2 separate regions of the Homo sapiens genome follow, and region 1 is reported to be linked to region 2. The links are microRNA targets in miRTarBase. Many come from high-throughput screens and were not tested one by one. Region 2 holds a microRNA gene; the other region holds the end of a gene's coding sequence.

Region 1 (3,407 bases), not on the chromosome of region 2:
AGGCATGAGCCACCGTGCCCGGCCAAATTGGTGTTTTCTTTTAATCATCCCTATTATGGTAGCCATCATCCGTATGTACCTATTTAAATTTATTTTAGTTAAAATTAAATAAGATTAAAAATTCAGTTCCTCTGTCTCACTGGCCATATTTCAGGGGCTCAGTAGCCACATGTGGGCATGTGGATGTGGAACCCTCCCCAACACCGCACGAAGCTGTTGGATGGCATTGCTCCCAGCAATTTCCCATTTTCTCTCTCTCCCTCACACAGGTCTATTTTGCTGTCTACACCTTCAAGGCACGAAACCCAAATGAGCTGAGCGTGTCAGCCAATCAGAAACTCAAGATCCTCGAGTTTAAAGATGTTACAGGAAATACAGAGTGGTGGTTAGCTGAGGTTAACGGGAAGAAGGGCTACGTTCCCTCCAATTATATCCGCAAAACCGAGTACACCTGAGCCCACGTTGCCTGCCACCCAGCCTTGCTGCCTTTGCTTTCAGTCCGCCGAGGGTTCTGGCGGCCCACCGAGAGGGCGCCTGCTCCTGAGACACAGGCCCTGTCTGCGTTGCTTAACCATGGCATGGTGGAGCACACCACAGATCTTGTTCTCCTCGATTGGGTTGTAAACCTTGATGCTCACTAGAATCTCTAGAATTTGAAATGGACCCTGGGGCTTTGCAAATGACTTAGTGACTATGAGAAGAGAGACAAGTCTTAGAGCTGGCTTTTGGAAAGGAGAAACTTGCAGTCAGAAGCCCAGTGTCCTATGTATGCAGGAAGCTGTGCTCTAGCAATAGACAGTGTTGGTAATGGTTGTGCTGTACGGCGTTTGGGGTGGCCCCATGTTCCATGCTCAGCTGACCGGATGCCAACTCAGATGAAAAGAATTCATGGCTCTGGGCACCCCGTGAGGCAGTGCTTGCACATGGCTGGGAGTTTGTCGGGATTGAACCAAACCTAGTGCTTCAAAGCTCCTGGGACACCTCCAGTGTCCAGCACACATTCTCATACATACTGCCCCTAATTTCTAAAGTCCCTAAAGCACTACATTCTGTAACCTTGTTTCTTTTACTCCATTCCCAGATTAGTTATGCAAAATTCAACTGCGTTCTACTTTTAGAAGTGTTTAGGGTCTTTATTTTCTGTTGACCCTTCATCTGAAAGATTCTCTTCCCTTGTTAGGTACAATCACTGCCCCCCCGCTTTTTTTTTTGAGATGGGGTCTTGCTATGTTGCCCAGGCTGGTCTTAAACGCCTGGGCTCAAGCAACCCTCCCGCCTCCCTGCTGAGATTACAGGTGTAAGCCACCATACCGCAACCTCAATGACACCTTTCTGATGGTCTTTACACAGTCTGTGATGTCTGGTGGCCCCCCTGCCCTGGACTCAATAATTGATAGATTTTCCTAGAGTAACAGTATGAGAGCTCCAGCCATTCCATTAAAAGTATTAGTTCTGCTTTGAGCTGAAACCAGTTGAGCCTAATGGAAGACTGGATGTCTTTCTTCTTCATCCAAGCACCCTAATGACTGTTTAGTTACATCCATAGATGCAGACAACATAACACCTGTGACTTACTTGAATTGGGATAAGCCATTCCAGAAGTAGCTTATCCTAGACTTGGAAATAAGATTTTTTTCACCACTAACTTCCATGCTTCAGAGATGACATTCAAAGCCAGATTCCCAAGTGCCTGATCATACCTCCCAGTCTCAGGAAGATATTTGCTTACCCCTTAGACCAAGAATCTTAAGATCTTCCCCAGCTATGAAGCCTATCTTGGAATGGGAAACCATGAAATTTGTCTTTTAAAAGAAAGGGAAGAAATAGCCTTACAGCCCCTGTTCCTCCAAGTGCACATTTAGCCTTAAAATCCTGGGAGTCGGGAGACACCGTGGAGTCCTAACATCCACAGTGTCTGCTGGTCGTGGTCAGAAGGCAGTAATGCAAGAGTCCTTTTGTGAAGAGTGTTTCTATGTAGAGATGTTTATATTTAAGTAGTTCTTTTATAAATAAAAGCATTTCTAATGGCCTTGGATGTTTTCTTGATTTCCATGTTTAAGCTGAACGGGTTTTTTTGTTTGTTTGTTTAAGCTGAACGTTTTTCCTGGGCTTCTGGGGAGGCCTTCTTGACAATGAGTGATGTCCAGATCTGGGAGAATGGGAGAGGCTAACTGAAGAAATGCAGGCCCAAAGTCATTCTGTCAAAGATTCCAACAATCTCTATATACTCAGGCCGAGTGTGGTGGCTCACACCTGTAATCCCACCAGCACTTTGGGAGGCCAAGGTGGGCGGATCACTTGAGGCCAAGAGTTTGAGACCAGCCTGGCCAACATGGTGAAACCCCATCCCTACTGAAAATACAAAAATTAGCCGGGCATGGTGCTGCATGCCAATAGTCCTGGCTAATCAAGTGGCTGAGAATTGCTTGAACCTGGGTGGCAGAGGTTGCAGTGAGCCAAGATCACACCACTGTACCCTAGCCCGGGCGATAGCAAGACCCTGTCTCAAAAAAAAAAAAAAAAAAAATCTCTGTATACTCAAAATATGTCCATGCTGCAGGTGACTGCCTCTATTTTCATCTTGTCCTGTGAAATTCTAACGAAACAGAAGAGCTGGGATCTCTAGGGGATAAGTATTTCCCTGATATTGCAGATGTGGACACTGATACACAAGGTTATCTAACAAGGTCACGGAGCAGCAGCTCAGGCAGTTGGGGGCAGGGAAGGAAGTGGCAGGGCTAGTGGCAGAGGTGGGATTGAGGACAGTATGGTGGGTGACAGTAAAGCGATCACCCAGTGTTGTTAAGGAATAGAAATCACTGAATTGGGTAGGCTGCAGGAAAGCAGCTGATAAGTCACCTATGCTACTCTCATGTGATAGACTAGGAAAATGGGGTCCAGAGACATTCGTACTCACCCAAGTCATATATCAAGTTTTTGAGGGGTTGTGAATTGAAACTCGGGCCTGCAGGCTCAGGCTGAGTCTGTACACCTTGTTCTGGAGCCAGACTGTCTGGCTTCTGACACTTGGCAGCTTTGTGACCTTGGCAACGTACCCACCTCTGTCTCAGTTCCCTGGTTGAGGTAGAGATAGTAATAGCATCCACCTTGTAGAGTTGATAGGAAGATTCCGTGAGTTAATACATGCACCATGCTGCAACAGGACAGCTGCGAGATACTGGAGGAGGACTTTCAGTGCTTGTCCCCCCATGGAAACATCTTAAACTATCTGTGCATGAAAATACCCTAAGCGCTAAGAAAACCATGTGAGAGATGACAGCACCTGGGTGTTGCATGCAAATATTAAGAAAAGATGCATTGGAGAGGGCAGGGAGGACATGTTCACAGGACCTGTGCCAACCCCTCCCTCAGCCGCAGGCAGCGCAGCACACATCGGAACACCCTCT
Region 2 (3,407 bases):
CCTTTGTCATTACCTATTAAATGAGGATGATAACAGAACCCATCTCAAAGGGTGGATATTAGGTTTAAATGAATTAATACAAGTGCTGGCCAGGTGTGGTGGCTCATGCCTGTAATCCCAACATTTTGGGAGGCTGAGGTGGGCAGAACACCCGAGGTCAGGAGTTCGAGACCAGGCTACCCAACATGGTGAAACCCTGTCTCTACTAAAAATATAAAAATTAGGTGGGCATGGTGGTGCACCCCTGTAATCCCAGCTACTCAGGAGGCTGAGGCAGGAGAATCGCTTGAACCTGGGAAGTGGAGGATGCAGTGAGCCGAGATGGTACCACTGCACCCCAGCCTGGGTGACAGAGCAAGACTCTGTCTCAAAAAAAAAAAAAAATTAGTACAAGTGCTTAGAATGGTGCCCAGCATACATTAAGCTCTCAATGCTATTTGCCATAGTTATCAGTGTTATTGACACTTTGTGTTGAAAACACAGACATTCATCTTGGTATGCGTCCTGGTTATCTACTGCTAAGTAAGAACCACTCTAAAACTTAGTGACTTCAAACAGTACTTTATTATGCTTCATGGTTCTGTGGTTTGACTGGGCTCAGCTGGGTGGCTCTCACTTAGGGTCTCTTGTTTTGGGTCTCATCAGTTGATGGCATGAGAGTTTATGTGATGGCCATGATTGCAAAATACAGTCAGCCACAGTATCACAACACAGAAGAAATTCAGACATCAGGTGGTGGTTAAAACAGAAGACATGAAAGGTCCTATCTAGACTTAGGATGAGATGAGTCTAATTATTCATTGAGTATCTGCTGTGAATCTCTGTGATGCTGGTGCTGTAAGGGATGTGAAACGCAGAACTATCTTCATTCTCACAGACCTTACGATTTATCTAGGGACATATAATTAACATATATAGAACAGTTGAAGAACAGTGGCATGGTAAATTTTTTGTTTTGTTTTGTTTTGATACAGAGTCTCACTCTGTCACCCAGGCTGGAGTGCAGTGGTGCCATCTCGGCTCACTGCAACCTCTCCCTCCCAGGTTCAAGCAATTCTCCTCCCTCAGCCTCCCAAGTAGCTGGGATTACAGGCATGTGCCACCATGCCCAGCTAGTTTTTTTGTGTGTTTTTAGTAGAGGAGGGGGTTTCACCATATTGGCCAGGCTGGTCTCGAACTTCTGACCTTGTGATCTGCCTGCCTCAGCCTCCCAAAGTGCTGGGATTACAGGCGTCAGTCACCACGCCCGGCCCATACTAAATTTTTAGTGCAATAATTTATCAGGGTAGAATTTACTCTTAAATACCTCCTATGGCTTACGTGCCAGAATTCAGTTTGGGGGAGTTCCTTAGAGATGTTCTCATAGAAATCTCTACAGAAGCCCCATAACTTATCATCCACCCTTTCCTCTTCTGTCCTGCATTAGGAAATATGATTCCCTGATTCAGGATCAGCCCCGGGAACTGTCTTACCTACGGCAAAAAATACGAGAAGGGAGAGGTGTTTGTTATCTTCTCACCCAGCATGCAAAAGATACAGTAAAATCTTTTGAGGATCTCTTAAGGAGCAATGACATTGACTACTACCTGGGACAGAGCTTCCGGGAGCAACTGGCCCGGGGAAGCCAGCTGACAGAGAGGCTCACCAGCACACTCAGCACCAGTAGGTTGGCCACAGGGCTTTGGATACTCTCAGTCACCCCACAGTTCCAGCCCCTGGTGGCCACCACATCTCCACTGCAACTTTTTAACGTAGGGTCCTGTTTCTATTTCATTTCCTGGGGCTAATACAGGATCAAGACTGCTCAATGGGGAGCATGGAGAGGAACACACAGGGCTGGAGATGCCATGGTTACAACTCTAGAAACTTCACCACTCATGGAATGTGACCTGTGGGGCAGGGGCGGCATCTCTCTGGTGCTAAGAGGGAGTAGGGGACATGACATGGAAGGGCCTTGTTATAGGAGGAAGAGCCGTGAGCTAACAATTGCAAGACGTCGAGGCGCTGAGGCCAAAGGGTCCGTGAGGAAACAGGCGCAGCTCGCGCCCCTCGGCCTACGGGAGGGAGGGCAAGGAGAGTCCTACGGTTCCTGGGAGGACGAGAAGAGCCAAGAGCCCCGACGGCCGGCGCCGGGGAAAAGGCCCCGAGGCGGGGTCCGCATCCCTGGAAGGGCGGCGTCCACCCTCCTGAGAGGCACGGGGCGCCCAGGGCTCGGACGCTCAAAGCCCGCCGGCTCCTGCAGCTTCTGGGAGCCGAAGAGTGTCAGCCGGGAGGATCCCGCACACGGCGCTTAGTTCTGGAACTGCATACCCAGGGGAGGATGCGGGAGCCCGAAGCCCGGGTATGTGTCCCCGAAGCCCGGGTGTGGGTCCCCATGGTTTTCGTGTTGGGGGTGGGCGCGGAACGCTAAGCCTGGGCCTATTGGGAGCCATAGTCTTCTTGATGGCTGGTGCTTATTGGGCTTTTTTCAGTCGAATTTCGAAATGCAGTTGAATTTCTTACTTTGGAAACGATAATAGAAATGGCTGACCTAAGATTTTCATGATGATATTTTGCCTTTTTTGGTGTATATGCAGTTTCTGTGGTGTAGTGGTTATTATGTTCGCTTCACATATGAAAGGTCTCTGGTTCGAGACTGCGTGGGAACATCGTGTTTTGTTTTGTTTTTTTGTCCCTAAATTTAGTGAGTTTAATCGAGGTTGGGAAACAAACAGAAAAGTAGTTGAACCTGTGGCTACACTTTAGACCTCCTCAATCTAGACAGATCGTTGACCAGGCTACAGTTTCCACTGGTCTGCCAGCAAGAGGCCTGCTTAATATTAGCTTTGGTTCCAGAAATTCCTTCAGGTTCTCTTCATTCTCTTCTATCGCCTGTATTTTCACAGGCTGACACTGAAAGTGGATGACATCTTAGTGCATTTCCTAAGGGTCCCGCTTGGCTTCGCTTTACTCTGGTAAGTTGCAGATCTGGCTGATTTGCAAGACAACAAAAACAAAATATTTTTTAAAAAGGTTCTAAATCTGCATCTGGAAGTCATAGAGTCAATATTCCTAAATCACATGAATTATGTGTATACATTTGCATGCATACCCCTTCCCCAAATAATCCTCAGAAAACCGGTTAAGTTTTAGCATCTGTGACTCTGAGATGCATATGAGGCCTTTGTAAATTTAGAAGTTAAGAGTAGAAAGTACAGGTTTGTATTTTAGAAGGAGATTTGGGAATAAATATAGCTCTGGTGGATATAGATCATATGTTAAGGTTTGTTGGCCAGAGCTGGTTTGTGTCTTGGGTGTTGGGCAAAGAACAGAGAACAGCCAAAGCTCTGCGAGGTCAATGTGAAGGGTGATTTCCTTGGTGGGCTCAAGTTTATGACGCAGCCTGGACCTAGCTTGGCTTCTCAGCT

The links. Region 2 holds the annotated microRNA hsa-miR-3675-5p (UAUGGGGCUUCUGUAGAGAUUUC, at 1,366-1,388, opposite strand). A microRNA usually pairs through its seed, bases 2 to 8, with sites in the 3' UTR of a target mRNA and lowers its output. Matches are read on the target gene's strand: a 7mer-m8 pairs with bases 2 to 8, a 7mer-A1 pairs with bases 2 to 7 and ends in A, and an 8mer does both.
Region 1: the mRNA of DNMBP is a reported target of hsa-miR-3675-5p. Seed matches in the 3' UTR shown: 7mer-m8 at 836-842.

What each region holds. Positions count from the first base shown.
Region 1 is chr10:99,874,199-99,877,605 of GRCh38, reverse strand. It overlaps DNMBP (dynamin binding protein), which reads left to right. Exons shown (of 17, transcript NM_015221.4): 17 at 270-2,029. The coding sequence ends at 455. Among named protein-coding and RNA genes, the nearest start is that of DNMBP-AS1, 51 kb to the left of the region's middle.
Region 2 is chr1:16,857,623-16,861,029 of GRCh38, forward strand. MIR3675 (microRNA 3675) reads right to left here and starts at 1,399; the gene lies at 1,327-1,399. It also overlaps the pseudogene PDE4DIPP9 and the pseudogene TRV-CAC11-2.